Linked DNA regions of Homo sapiens. The protein of the gene in region 1 interacts with the protein of each later gene in a biochemical or structural test. Each region holds a gene or a part of one and is shown in the gene's direction. Other genes may lie near its edges.

Region 1 (7,021 bases):
GGTTCCTCGGCATTCCTCACCAGGTCAGGTTCCTGCGGCCACCTCCCTCATGAGGCCGACGTGCTCCTGATGTTTTGAAGCGGTGTTCATATTCTCCCACTTCTGTAGAGCAAGCAGGAAAGAGTAGGTACCTTCTGCTCACTGTCTTTTGTCTGGCTTTGAGTCCCATTTCTTTTCCTTCTTGTTTTAGCGGAAGAAAGAGATTTTTACTTACTGTTCCTTTGAGACCTTGTTGCCTAGCTTTTAAAAATGCCCTTTTCACTCTTTCTGTTTTAGGAGTGACTATTCCCTGGCTAAATATTGGCATGGTCTTTTCTACCTCATGCTGGTCTCGAGACCAAAATCACCTTCCATACATTGACTACTTACACACTGGTGCTGACTGCATTTGGTGAGTACTGGCCCCAGGCGGGAAGGGAGGGACTGCAGAAACTACTATTACCACATGAAGTGGGGCCTGTGGGTAACTTCTTGTCCAGGTGGTTCCACGTGCTTGAGAACTTGCTTCTCTGTGTTCAGGCCTGTCCTGCGTTCCCTGCCGAAGCCTGGGCCTGGGATCACCTACCTCTGTTGGAAGAGTTGGGGTGCTGGAGAATGTTGTAACACTGTCTGATGATGAGCAAATCTTTTCATATGCTTAGTGGCCATTTAAGTTCCCCTTAGTTCCTTAAGTTCCCTTAAGAATTACCTACTTACGTCTGTTTTTGTTTTGTTTTGTTTCGTTTTGTTTTGTTATGGATTAGTCACTTTTTCTTGTGGATTTCCAAGAGTTATTTTCACCTTAGGGTTAAGGAACAGTAGTAAAAGTGCCACACAAAGCTAACCAGTAGTAGTGACCGTGTCATCAGCCCTCTAGTAACTGAATATAAACCGTGGTATTTCATGATTGGTTATTTTCAGCCTCTCTGTAGAGCCAGTGTTTCCTCATCTATCGGTGGCTGTGGGGAGTAGAGTTGACTTGGGAATCTCGTTCCTGCCATGTGGAGACACGCGCGTTATGTACCCTGTGGAGTCTGTTGCCTGGCGAGGTGTTCTGGGTCCCCGCCTGTAATCTGACTCTCACTGTAGCCATCCCTGATTGAGGCTGGGTCCCCGCCTGTAATCCTGACTCTCACTGCACCCATCCCTGATCGAGGCTGGACTCTTTGGTGTCTTTGTTTACGGCGGCAGATGGGAAATGACTACAAATAATCAGATGTCTTGTCGTCTGATCGTTTACCGGCATGCTGTTCATGCCATGCTGACTGTGTTTATTGCCCTAATGGGGTGATTAAACATTCTTTATTAAAATAAACAAAGTCTTAGGACTCGTGTTCTCCCTCTTTGGAGCCAGCGTCGGCTGCAGCCTCCTCATTTTGGCTGTTCTGGTGAGTGGTGCTGTGGACATGAGGGAGCCCTCCCTTCCCACATGGGTCTGTGTGCCATGGACGGTGATCATGGTGTCCTGCAGTGGGTCCAGAGTGATGGGCCCGGGAAGCCCAGGCTGTTGCCTGTGGAGCGGGGACTGACAGGAGCCTTGGGGCTTAGCCGGGCCAGGCCACCAGCTGGGGAGGGGACAGCCAGGACTATTCCGAGAGGTGCCTTTGCCTCCGGAAGAAGAGCGTGGCCATTTCCTGTGGAGGAGTTACACTGGCTGTGGCATGGCCTGTGTTCTGGGGTCATCCCCAGGCCAGTGACCTCAGGCCCGAGTTTCTTCCGTGTGGGTTTGCTTATGGCTTGACGTTGAGTCACAGATAGCAAAATGTGATACCCTGTGTGGGCTTTTTGAAGACTCACTCCTGGAACCTCATTGACAGGAGAGAAAGAAAAGGCAGGGATAGGATCAGAGAACATGATGGTGTGTAGTTTTTCTTAAAACATGTGATTTAGGTTAGAAACCCTGTATTTAAATTACCAATCAGTAACAGAATATGTTGGCATTGAAAATAACATGAGCATTAAAAAAAATACTTCCTTCACTGAGCAACTGAAACCAGGATTTGGCCTCAGAGAGAAATGCTTTCATCACAGACACATAGGGGCTGCAGAGTTGCTGCCCGCCTGGACCTGGGGGGCGGGGGCTGTGGGGAGGGGCTGGCGGTGTTGCCCTGAGCTGCTGGCCCACATCTTTGTGTTTAATGGTGGTTGATGGCTTCACTGGCTTAGCATCCTGAAGACCTGTCAGGCCCCTCTCCACACTGATGTCCTCCTCTTGCCTGGGGAGGAGCCCCTCAGACAGCCTGAGACACCCAGGGGCAGGGCAGCCATCCCTGCACCCCTGCCTTGCGGGGGGCCTCCCCTCACATCCCCCTCATTCATGCTGTGAGCCTGACACCAGGGGCGTCACACGTTGTGAGTGGAAGTGTGGCCCTGGTGGGCTCCAAGGACATGGGCAAAACCTCCTCCCCTCCCTGTGATTGCCGTGAGGAGGCCGTGTAGGTTACTTTCTACCTGTACCTCCCACCTTTTCTTACACTTGAGGACCCCTGCCATGGTTATACCCTGGAGGGTCTGTGAGCCACCACTTCCCCAGGCCACCCTCTGACAGAGGCCTATGAGCCCTTGATCCTCCTGTGTGTCTTGCTGTATGTGCCTGATGCCGGGTAGGCTGGGTCCTAACACGTAAAACTCTCCAGTGGGGAGCAGAGCTGGGGGCCCCTAGCTATCCCCTGACCCCTACTTCACCACAGCATCTGCCAAGGAGTTGGCCTTGAGGTGGCACATGTGCATGAGCCTGGCTCCTTCCCCAACTCTCTGTGCATTTGTAGAGGGCAGGGTTTACTGTTCCTGTCTGGAGGGCCGAGGGAGCCACGTATTCCTTGTGAGGACATTATCAGGTGCTGCTCCTGCAGTGGCCTCTGTTAACAGAAGGAGGGTGCAGTGCTGGAGCCTCAGAAGAGGCTCGTGGAGGCCGCAGTGTGTCTGGTTCTGATTTCTAGGGGTTTGTGAACATCTGTTTGTGGTTTGAAGGCTTTTTGGCTCACCAGGTGGGTCAGATCTCCATAAAAGATGAGCATCTCGCAACGCGGATGCACTGTGGTTTGGCTGTGTGCTAGGTGGACGTGGCACTGCTGCCATGGGAAATGGGAGCCAGCAGTGACCAGGCACCCAGCCAGGCCAGTGCGCCATCCCTGCCGGCGTGGAGCAGAGCCTCTCGTGTGCTCGGGTCCCTGAGGGTGACGGGGGTGGCCCAGTACATGCAGGAGGCCCTTGTCAAGTCTCTGCTTGTCTCTTGTGTCTCTCAATGACCCAGGTATTGCATTCCTGCTGAGGAGGAGAACAAGCTGGAAGATGTGGTCCACACCCTGCTGCAAGCCAATGGCACCCCAGGGCTGCAGATGCTGGAAAGCAACGTCATGGTGCGTCCACTCAGCCACCGCCTCCAGCAGGAGCTGTAGGACCTCCTAGGCACTTGAACATGGTTTCCCATGAACCCGCCTTTCAAAGGCAATGAGGACACAGCAAAACAAATCCCCAGGGTGCAAAGGGAAAGGTCCTCTGACACAAAAGCCAAACTGACCTTCCATCAGATTGCACAGGGCGCTGGGGTTTTGCACGGCCTTTGCATCTGTTTTGGGGCTTGTTTGTGTTGTGGGCTGCTGTGGGCCCTGGGATTTCTTGTGCCCGCCGCTCCTACCTTCTGGGCATGTGAGAGGAATGAGCACAAAGGCTTCTTCACCTGTTTTCAGGAAGTCATGGGGCTGGTGAGTTCCTGGGAAGTGCTGCTTTGAGCTGAGTTCTGACCAGCTTCTCTGGCCTCTGCTGACCCTGCCGGTCCCGCCTGTCCATCTTAGAGAAGAGATGGACGGGGGACTCCTTTGTAAGCCCAGCCTGTGGGCCTGTGGCCTACTTGGCTCTGGAGATGAGCCCGGCAGCCTCCTGGTTGTGTAACCTTGTCCTGTTTCCAGCCCTGGCATTGCCACGTGGGGACAGAGGGGCCTGTGTGGTCATCATGTCCTCAGCTGTGCATGAACCTGTCATCACTCTTGGACCAGTGCAGTTTAGAAGCTCCTTCTTGTGTTATGAATGACGTCTTTTTATTTTCCACATAAAACAATCTTATCTCCTTGAGAGCAGGCCTCTTAGGGTGCGCATACGTCACCTGAAGACTGCAGGTGTCCCTGCGCACAGGGAGGGGTGCCTCAGCCTGGCCCTGTCTCCCCAGATCTCCCCGGAGGTGCTGTGCAAAGAGGGGATCAAGGTGCACAGGACCGTGCAGCAGAGTGGCCAGTTTGTCGTCTGCTTCCCGGGATCCTTTGTGTCCAAAGTGTGCTGTGGGTACAGCGTGTCTGAAACCGTGCACTTTGCTACCACCCAGTGGACAAGTATGGGCTTTGAGACCGCCAAGGTGAGCAGAGCCGGCCTCCTCCCGCTTGCTGCCCCCGCATCCCTGTGAGTGCCGTGCGTGAGCGCACACAGAAGCATCCCTGCGTGTGCGTGTCTATTTGTCAATAGTTCCTTTTGGAATATGTCTTTGAAATTCTTAAGACGTGGTTGAAAGGTCTTCTAGGAATGAAAAGTTGTTAGGGATTTGTTTGTATCACAAAGAGTTTTGATCAGACCGTTACTGACAGACCCCTCCAGTATTGGAAAACTGTTGAAGATGCTCAAGGTAATTGCTTAGAATGGACAGAGAACCTCCACCCATCGTGAGGGAGTGGCAGCTGCCTCTGGGTAGCGGCGAAGTGCTATGACTTTTCCTGGTATGTGGTGCCTTTCTCACAGGGAGGCAAAGTTTTGAAGAGTTTTTAATCTAAATGCAATTCAAGATTTAGAAATTCAGACAGCCTGCCTGCCCCCTCCACCAAGAAGAACCTTGACAGCTGCCTAGTAATGAAAATCCACCCTAAAGGGATGTGACTCCTCTTTCAGGAAATGAAGCGTCGCCATATAGCTAAGCCATTCTCCATGGAGAAGTTACTCTACCAGATTGCACAAGCAGAAGCAAAAAAAGAAAACGGTCCCACTCTCAGTACCATCTCAGCCCTCCTGGATGAGCTCAGGTAACAGACCCCCAGAGCCCACGCCAGAGAGCTGGACCCGGCTGCCCTTCGGGGGCTCACCCCCCGAGCAGGCCTCACTTCCTGACAGGAGGGTGTGTCTGCAGGGAGGCCGGTGTGGGGTGCGTGTGTCCCCTCTGCTGGTGAGCATGGCAGGCCGTCACTAAAGGTGCGGGCCGTCTCCCGTGTCTGGCAGGGATACAGAGCTGCGGCAGCGCAGGCAGCTGTTCGAGGCTGGCCTCCACTCCTCCGCACGCTATGGCAGCCACGATGGCAGCAGCACGGTGGCGGACGGGAAGAAAAAGCCTCGAAAGTGGCTGCAGTTGGAGACGTCAGAGAGGAGGTGTCAGATCTGCCAGCACCTGTGCTACCTGTCCATGGTGAGCCCGCCTGGCCCTGCCGGCGCCCTCGCATGTAGTGCTTGGCCTGAGAGCTCCGGGGTTGCCCCCAGAAGAGGGAGGGCGCTCTCTGCCCAGGAGACCTGCTGTGCTCCCATCTCTGGAGCCGGCTGTGGGACCTCGGCGGAGCTTCTGGCCGCCGGAGGTGGCTGCCTCACCCACAGTGACCAGGCCACACAGAGGCTGTCCCTCTGTTCTGCCCACGCGTGGCCCTCCCTCGGTCCTGCAGTGCGTCCTTCCTCCCTGGGGAGCAGGTGGCCTCCCTCTCCGCCCTACTTTGTCACTCCAGCCCCCACGCACTCTGCTCTTACCCATTCTTTCTGAGGCAGTGAGGGGCGGGTTTCCAGTACTGGGCAGCGTCTGCCATTCCCTGTGGCCTGTGCCTGGTGCACCTGGGCCCATGGCCTCTGCCCTTTGGCTCTGTTCTTGGTTTCCTGGTCCTGCTCAGCTACATGATCTGCCTCAGCCCCCGAGGACTTCAGAATCTATCCTTGGTGAAAGCTGATGTTCCTCCTGTCCCATCTGGGATCAGAGATGCTTTTCTGGCACAGCCACTCCAGGCCACAGCAGGCTGCATTCCTCTTGCCTTCTCGACTGTGCCCTGCTGGCTTCCTCGTGCCCACCTGCCTGCCTCAGCTTTGGGGTTAATACCAAACACCTCCTCCCCCTGCTCACCCCTGTTCCAGCCCAGAGGTGGGCTCAGAAAAGCCCTTCCATGGCGACTGGATGGCTGTGGCCTCGCCATGCTTCTTCCAGTCTCCCCTTGACCTCTCACCAGAGAGCTGCCCTGACACACTCTGGGTAGGGACGCCCAGCTGGCACTGCAGATGGCTCCACAGCACTACACACCTTAGCCTGGAACAGAGAGCATGCCCGAAGGGCCTGACCTGCCTCCCCGGGCCTCGTCCCTTTCCACAGTGCCTCACATCTCCAGTACAGAAGCCTAGCTTAGGAGGTGCCCACCCCATATGCTGTGTGGTGCCTGTGTCCCACAGGTGCCCCCTTCGGCTGCACACTCGCTGAGAGGCCAGTGCCTCTGCGTCCCTCTGCTTGTCCATGGTGGGCCAGGACTGAGACCCGGGTCGACTCTCCTTGGCCTCCCAGTGTGACTGTGTCATGCCGTCTCACCCCGAGTCCTGGCGTGCCCTGTAGAAGAGGGAGGACACAGCCTCTCCCGGATGAGTCAGATCGTCAGATCGTCAGATCAGGGCTTTGTAACATTTGAAAGAGCTAAAAACTCGGTGTGTCCTCATCTCCTCCTTACCTAAGGACGCAAATCACATTGTATCAGATAGGCCCACCCTCATGGCCTCATTTGAGCTGATTTACCTCTTTAGAGGCCCTACCCCCAACTGCAGTCACAGCTGAGATCCTGGAGGTTCAACGTTTGCATTTGATGGGGGACAAATGCAGTCCGTGACCGCCCTGCCTCCTGTCCTGTAGATTTCCTTCTGTCTGGTTTTTTCCCCCAGACTTCTCAAAATGTATTACCTAGAGCCATTTGGTTCTTAAAAGAAAATGATGATAAGCATTTTCCCAGATCTTCAAAGTATCTTATAAACATCACTGATAAAAGCTGCATAGCTTGGTGTGCTCTCTCTCTGTTCTTTTTTTTTTTTGTTTGTTTGAGACAGTCTTGCTCTG
Region 2 (7,271 bases), on another chromosome or scaffold:
GGGAGAAGGGAAAGGAAAAGTGGGAGAGCGAGGGGAGGGGAAGGCGGAAGTGAAATGAACGCATGTTAAATTCCTCTCTCCCCCTCTCTTTCTCAAATGAACTTTATGCAGGAAATCTCCCTTGTCTATGAAGGTTGGGGAGACCTGGCATCTCAAATCCAACAGCCTGGTCCTCTCCCCTGGCTGCGGGGTGGGGGGTGATGGTGGGGGTCTTGCTCTTCCTCCAGTTGGTACGGTCTTGGGCGCAGCGACGTGTAATAAAAGAAAACAGTCTCAGCTGTGCAGTCAGCTGTGTGTTCGAATCCTAACACCCTGACACTGTCCTTTCCCATCTGTGTGACCCTGAGCAACTTACTCCACGTCTCTGAACCTCATTCTCCTCAGGCCTGCAGTCGGAATAAGAGGATCCGTGACGAGATCCGTGAGAGCGCCTGGCACACCCCGTGGGCACTGAACAAGCGTGGAAATGAGAAGGATTTGGTGCCAGCTGAGCCACCTGAATGAGGCGAGTCCCGAGGCAGGAAAAATCCGGTGCCGCGGAGGCCGCCTGGACTCTTCCGGAGCCAAGGGCGAGGTCGGCGGCCCTCAGAGTCGCCCCCCGCCCCCAACTCCCGGCCAGGAAGGAAGCCGGGCGGCGGAGGGGCCCAGCGCGGAGGCGGAGGCGGAGGCGGAGGCGGAGGCCGAGGCCGGGAGTCCGGCGCGCAGCCGGAGCTGCTCATCCATCAGCCGGACGAAGAGCAGAGTCGCGCTCTCGGCCCTCTGTTTGCTTTCTCGCCAATTATTGCAGCGCCGCAGCCCCTTTGTTGATACAGTAGTCCGAAAAAGTGCTAATGTTCATTTATCAGGGGGCCAGCCGGGGACTCCCACGAGTTGCGATTCTTCCCAAAATATAAACATGGGGCGAGCGTCCCAGACAGAAACTCCCATCTGTTTCCCCCGCGCGGGCCGAGAGCGAGGCGTTGTTGAAGATAAAGCCGCGGATAACGCCGCCTGTCTCCAATGGACGTCTCCCCAGCGCATTAATGACATTCCCGGTGATAGTTCCAGCTTATCTTTCAATTAATCATATATACCTTTTGCGACCAGCCCTGCTGATTGCACGAAAGGGGGGCCGGCTCCGGCTGCGCCGATCGCTTTTCAATTAATAATAATTTATTCACGGAGAATGCGCTCGAGCCACCCTGGAATTTGGATTATCTTAAAGCACCAACTCTTTAAAAGTCAAGGAAATACACAGATAGATTTTCGATCTCTTCTCTCTCCTTTTGTCTCTCTCTGCCTTTCTCTAGGCTGAAGGCTGTTTGTTTGTCCTGCTAGTTTGGTCAAAGTGCGGCGCAGAGAGGCGGCCAGGTTGGGTCAGCGGCCCTTGGGAAAAAAAGATGTGTCCCTGTTGGGGGCCAGAGAATCAAGTTTCCTCCCACCCAACCCCCAACTATTGCAATTTCTATTTAGATCTATTTAGAGGGATTTTTTTTTAACTCACTCGGAAACAGTGAGGACTGGAAAGAAAAGCTGCAAATGGCTCTCGGACTTTCCTCTAAGGAGACCAGCATGGGTCGCCCCAATTTCTATTTTGCACGTATTTGTCCGTTTTTGCCCCATCTCCTCTCTCCTGCAACACCAAGACCTTTTTGGAAGCCAAGAGAAATCATTACCCGATTCACAAAGAGCATAGAGAGTGTAACAGTCACTGATCTTGTTCAAATAGGGAGAGTTTTTTTTCCTTCCCTTTTTGTAACACCTGACCCACAGGACTGACAGTTCTAGGAAGCCCCCTTACCCGAAAATAGGAAATAAATCCTTGCCACCTTGATTTGCAAGGGCAATGCTAATTTTTTTCTTTCTCCAGAGCTCTCAAAAAAAAAAAAAAAAAAACCTTACTAAAAACAGGGATCCCGGATGTAGCCTCGATGTCCCCCATTAAACGGTAATATTTCAGGCGTCCGCTCACACTAATCTTTCAAACTGTCATCGCGAGCCGCCTGGCCAGCAGATTCACTTAACAGCGCTCCCAGGACCCTCGTTCCGAGCTCTTTTCAGCGAGACATTTAATTGAATCGGATGTGGCTCGTTTGCCAGACGTCACCGCCTCGGCGATAGGCATCCTCTCCAACGACACCCCCCCCCGCCCGCGCTCGAAAACAATCTTCAAAGGCAAGGCGGGCCCCCAAGCTAGGTTAATTTACAGCCATAACGGTAACGTGGCCAAAAGTCCAGGCGAGGAAGGGCCGCAAGGCCGCTGACATGCAGCTCCGTCCAAGGAGAATTTGGGTTGGGAGGTGAAGAGGTGGGGGGACGAGGTTTCCTGGGCCTTGAACGCCCCACATTTAAGAAAAGGCATCCTCCACAGACTAGACTAACAATTCCAGACCCCCAGTAGTCCCTGGCTCAGAAACTCGAGGCGTGATTTCGGCGTGGCAGCCCAGGCCTGTTACTGACGGCTGGCGCCTAGAAGCCGGGGTCAGGGCGTTGCGCGCCTCCTGGGCTGCCCTGCGGGGCTCACCTCTCTCCCCAGCATGGAGGCCCCAGGTCCTGGGAGTGTGGCTTTGATGAGGGACAGGAAAAGTCCCAACATCAGGCCAATGCTTGACTTCACTTGCGTCGGCGTCTCAGACGGCACACTGTCGGGTTTGAGCACCCAAGATGTACGTTCTGGACAGACACTATTTTGTCCCCATACATGGAGCGTTTCCTCCGCACCTTGGGCGCGCCTGCGGGAGCTGTGTCTTTAGGTAGTTTTTGGCCCTGCGCCGCCTTTATTCTACTCCAAGCGCCTCTTGCCAACCCGCACTCCGCAAAGAGCCAAGCCCTCCACATCCCCATTCTCAGCAAGTCCACGCGTCCCGCCCAGCTTCCCGCCCGCGGTTCCCTGTACCAGCTAGGGCCGTGAGAAGCCAACGCTTTTCCACTGACAAATCCTGTCATCCCCAGCTCTAGAAGGCGTCCTTAACCTGGGCCCGCTCTGCCTGCCCGGACTCCTGAATTGTAAGCAAAATAAAACTCCTCTCTGCAGTGTTCTGGGGAATGGAGAAGACCCCAAGCTTTCATCAGACCTCCCAAGGAGTGCGGGGACCCAGAGAAATGAGGCCACCCGGGCAGGATCTGGCCATGTAGCTGGCGCTCCTGAAACTCTGGCAGATTTGTCTGACTTCTGTGCCCTACTCTACTGACCCTGGGCTAAAAATGATCATGATCACCCCACTTGCCCTGCCCTTCCCCCACGCGCCTGACCGAGCCGCAGGGGTGCCCCACTGGAAGTCCGGCCCAGAGGCCTCAGAGAAATCCTGGCCTAGCTGGGCTCAGAGGAGCCCCGCCTCCCTGAGAGCTAAACCTGGGCTAGGACCCTGAAACCTCGAGGTTGGCAGAAGCCTGAGGGCCTTGCTGCCAGGCAGGGAGGGCACGGGAAGGAGGGAGGTGGGATCGATGGCCTCCAAACAGGGGAAACAAGGTGGCTGGTAGCTGGGGCACTCCACAAGACAGGTGTCTCCTGGGAAGCTGAGCTTACCAGCTGGGATTCCTGATTTATTTCATTATTAAGGGGAGAGGCATTTCCCTGGGAGGGTACTGGCAGTGACTGATGCCCCCTGGAGTTGTGCTGTGCATAACACTACTGTAGGAGGCAGCAACTCCTACCCCACCTGGCCATCACTCACCTTGCCCTTACTTTCGTTGACTCGCCCAGAAGCACCCAGAGCCTGCGGCATGACTGACCCTGTAGGCCAAGCCAAACCAAACCCCCGAATTGTCCAGAATCTCGCCCTGCTGCTATCCCCAAAGCCAGCCCTGTCCTCCAGGCTTCTCTTCCTATTCAGACTCTCCCTCATCCCACCACCTTCAGTAATAAAGCCTTCCTCAAATCACTCTCCTCCCCACCGCTTCCCACCCCATCCTTCTCTCTCCCATGCTGGTTTGGGTGCTGAGGAATATTTCTTCAAACCCACACCCATCCAGCCCTGCCCAGAGGCCTGACTCTGCATGCCTCTGGTAGGCTTTTCAGGCTCACATTAGGGAGCAAACGCAGGCTGCAGGAGCAAAAGGAGACCCTTCCAAATGCGTCGTGGCCCCTTTAAAAAAGCTGGGCAGGGCTTTTTTTTTTTTTTTTTTTTTTTTTTTTTTTTTTTTTTTTTGCCGTATGACTATATTAGGTGACACGAAACTGCTCATCGCTCCTGTCATCGAGGCCCCTGGCCCAATGGCAGGCTGAGTCCCCCTCCTCTGGCCTGGTCCCGCCTCTCCTGCCCCTTGTGCTCAGCGCTACCTGCTGCCCGGACACATCCAGAGCTGGCCGACGGGTGCGCGGGCGGGCGGCGGCACCATGCAGGGAAGCTGCCAGGGGCCGTGGGCAGCGCCGCTTTCTGCCGCCCACCTGGCGCTGTGAGACTGGCGCTGCCACCATGTTCCCCAGCCCTGCTCTCACGCCCACGCCCTTCTCAGTCAAAGACATCCTAAACCTGGAACAGCAGCAGCGCAGCCTGGCTGCCGCCGGAGAGCTCTCTGCCCGCCTGGAGGCGACCCTGGCGCCCTCCTCCTGCATGCTGGCCGCCTTCAAGCCAGAGGCCTACGCTGGGCCCGAGGCGGCTGCGCCGGGCCTCCCAGAGCTGCGCGCAGAGCTGGGCCGCGCGCCTTCACCGGCCAAGTGTGCGTCTGCCTTTCCCGCCGCCCCCGCCTTCTATCCACGTGCCTACAGCGACCCCGACCCAGCCAAGGACCCTAGAGCCGAAAAGAAAGGTGAGGAGGAAACACAGGCCCCCTTCTCCCCTCCTGGGTCGCTTTCGTCCCCAAGAAACTCAGGGCCAGGAGGAGGAGACACGCGCCCTTGGGCCGAGGGCTGGGCTGCGGCGGGGGGTTCAGAATGTAAGATGCCTGGTGTTGTCGCCAGGCTCCCGCGCCCCGCGTCCAATCGGAGGTTCAGAGGAAATGCCGGATTGAAAGGATCAGAAGCAAGAGACCAAAAAACGTTTCCCCCCGGCCTAACAAAGCCCCGGGCGGCTTCGGCTCTGCTCCTGGGTCTGGTAGGAAGTTGAGAAATCGGTTTATGGTAGACAGAACAGAGAGACAAGCAGATAATCTCTGTTTTTAAATCTCCTTTGGATTTACGAATCTTTTTAAAGATCTGATGAGAACCGCTAAACAGAAATTGAAATGTTGCTCACCAGACAGCTTTTGCGTACAATCGGAGGAGGGTCCTGGACCTTCTTTCTGCAGCCCACCCACGACCCGGGTTTCTGGTGCCTTTCTTTCTTTGCGCCAGGAAAGTGGAGTCTGGGATCGAGGGCCTTGATTTTAAAATGGGATACTGCGGACCCTCAGGAATCTGACTTCACTTTATTTTTTCAGCACAACTTGCCGGCGCGGCCAGGGCGGAGAGGTTCCCTCGTGGAAAAGTTAGGAAATGCTGCGCTACCGCGGGCACAAGGGAGTGGACGAGATGAGTGCGGGATCATCCCGCAGGCCATCCCAGGATCGGGGAGGGAGGCCGGCCCCGCTGCAGAAAGGGGCCTTCTGGGAGACCCCCCAGCCCAAGGCAGGAGCCCGGGCGATTCCCGGGAGGCCGCAGGCGCTGGGCGAAGCGCTGGGCGAAGGGCCGCTGCCAGCCGGGAGAGAATTCATAGGTTTGTTGAGGAGCAGAGGCCTGGGAACAAATTCGGGCGGGCACGGCGGCTAGAACTGATCGCTACCAATTCGAGGAAGCCAGCAAGGCAGGTTCCGAGGCCGCCTGCCCACCCGCAGCTTCTTGGACACTGCGCAAACCCTGCTGCGGCCAGGCTGGAGCCTCCGATCACCAAACCAACACTCCCTGGCCTTCTGTTTCTTGATTCCTTAATTTTGAGATAAGACCGTCCCTAGCAGTGAGGCCTCGGCCTCTGTTCATTTAACTTCTCAAACCAAACTAGCCCTAATTCAGTTCACCCCAGAGCATCACCTGGTTTTATTTTTATTTTTTTATTTTTTTATTTATTTTTTTTTTTTTTGCAGCCTGAAATTTTAAGTCACCGTCTGTCTCCCTCACCAGGGTGTGAACTGCCCCGAGGGCAGAGACCTCCCGTTTTGTTCTCCAGCGCCTTGAGCCAGCCTGACTTTCTACAAATGCTGAGTGAGACGTGTCGGTGGCTCCCAGTGCACTTGGCAGAGTGAGCCGCAGCCAGCTGGGCGCTCCAGGCAGGACACAGTGGCCTCCACGAGGATCCCTTACCATTACTGTGCGGCCGCGCTCCGTAGGTCAAGCCGCTCTTACCAAGCGTCTCTCTGCCTCTCTGTTCCCCCTCAGAGCTGTGCGCGCTGCAGAAGGCGGTGGAGCTGGAGAAGACAGAGGCGGACAACGCGGAGCGGCCCCGGGCGCGACGGCGGAGGAAGCCGCGCGTGCTCTTCTCGCAGGCGCAGGTCTATGAGCTGGAGCGGCGCTTCAAGCAGCAGCGGTACCTGTCGGCCCCCGAACGCGACCAGCTGGCCAGCGTGCTGAAACTCACGTCCACGCAGGTCAAGATCTGGTTCCAGAACCGGCGCTACAAGTGCAAGCGGCAGCGGCAGGACCAGACTCTGGAGCTGGTGGGGCTGCCCCCGCCGCCGCCGCCGCCTGCCCGCAGGATCGCGGTGCCAGTGCTGGTGCGCGATGGCAAGCCATGCCTAGGGGACTCGGCGCCCTACGCGCCTGCCTACGGCGTGGGCCTCAATCCCTACGGTTATAACGCCTACCCCGCCTATCCGGGTTACGGCGGCGCGGCCTGCAGCCCTGGCTACAGCTGCACTGCCGCTTACCCCGCCGGGCCTTCCCCAGCGCAGCCGGCCACTGCCGCCGCCAACAACAACTTCGTGAACTTCGGCGTCGGGGACTTGAATGCGGTTCAGAGCCCCGGGATTCCGCAGAGCAACTCGGGAGTGTCCACGCTGCATGGTATCCGAGCCTGGTAGGGAAGGGACCCGCGTGGCGCGACCCTGACCGATCCCACCTCAACAGCTCCCTGACTCTCGGGGGGAGAAGGGGCTCCCAACATGACCCTGAGTCCCCTGGATTTTGCATTCACTCCTGCGGAGACCTAGGAACTTTTTCTGTCCCACGCGCGTTTGTTCTTGCGCACGGGAGAGTTTGTGGCGGCGATTATGCAGCGTGCAATGAGTGATCCTGCAGCCTGGTGTCTTAGCTGTCCCCCCAGGAGTGCCCTCCGAGAGTCCATGGGCACCCCCGGTTGGAACTGGGACTGAGCTCGGGCACGCAGGGCCTGAGATCTGGCCGCCCATTCCGCGAGCCAGGGCCGGGCGCCCGGGCCTTTGCT

The links. Proteins that work in one complex are often made in the same cells at the same time.
Region 2: the proteins of JARID2 (region 1) and NKX2-5 form a complex in vitro, tested with the Homo sapiens proteins (one study listed by BioGRID).

The regions. Positions count from the first base shown.
Region 1 is NC_000006.12:15,508,064-15,515,084, forward strand, and holds part of JARID2 (protein Jumonji), read left to right. Parts: intron 1-276; coding exon 277-391; intron 392-900; coding exon of another isoform or gene 901-1,051; exon of another isoform or gene 1,052-1,294; intron 1,295-3,232; coding exon 3,233-3,338; intron 3,339-4,144; coding exon 4,145-4,327; intron 4,328-4,851; coding exon 4,852-4,982; intron 4,983-5,175; coding exon 5,176-5,359; intron 5,360-7,021.
Region 2 is NC_000005.10:173,232,207-173,239,477, reverse strand, and holds the start of NKX2-5 (homeobox protein Nkx-2.5), read left to right. Parts: upstream 1-4,271; 5' UTR 4,272-4,394; coding exon 4,395-4,728; intron 4,729-5,337; coding exon of another isoform or gene 5,338-5,432; exon of another isoform or gene 5,433-5,969; intron 5,970-5,976; coding exon of another isoform or gene 5,977-5,981; exon of another isoform or gene 5,982-6,013; coding exon of another isoform or gene 6,014-6,135; exon of another isoform or gene 6,136-6,268; coding exon 6,269-6,909; 3' UTR 6,910-7,271. UniProt on the Homo sapiens protein: Transcription factor required for the development of the heart and the spleen. During heart development, acts as a transcriptional activator of NPPA/ANF in cooperation with GATA4.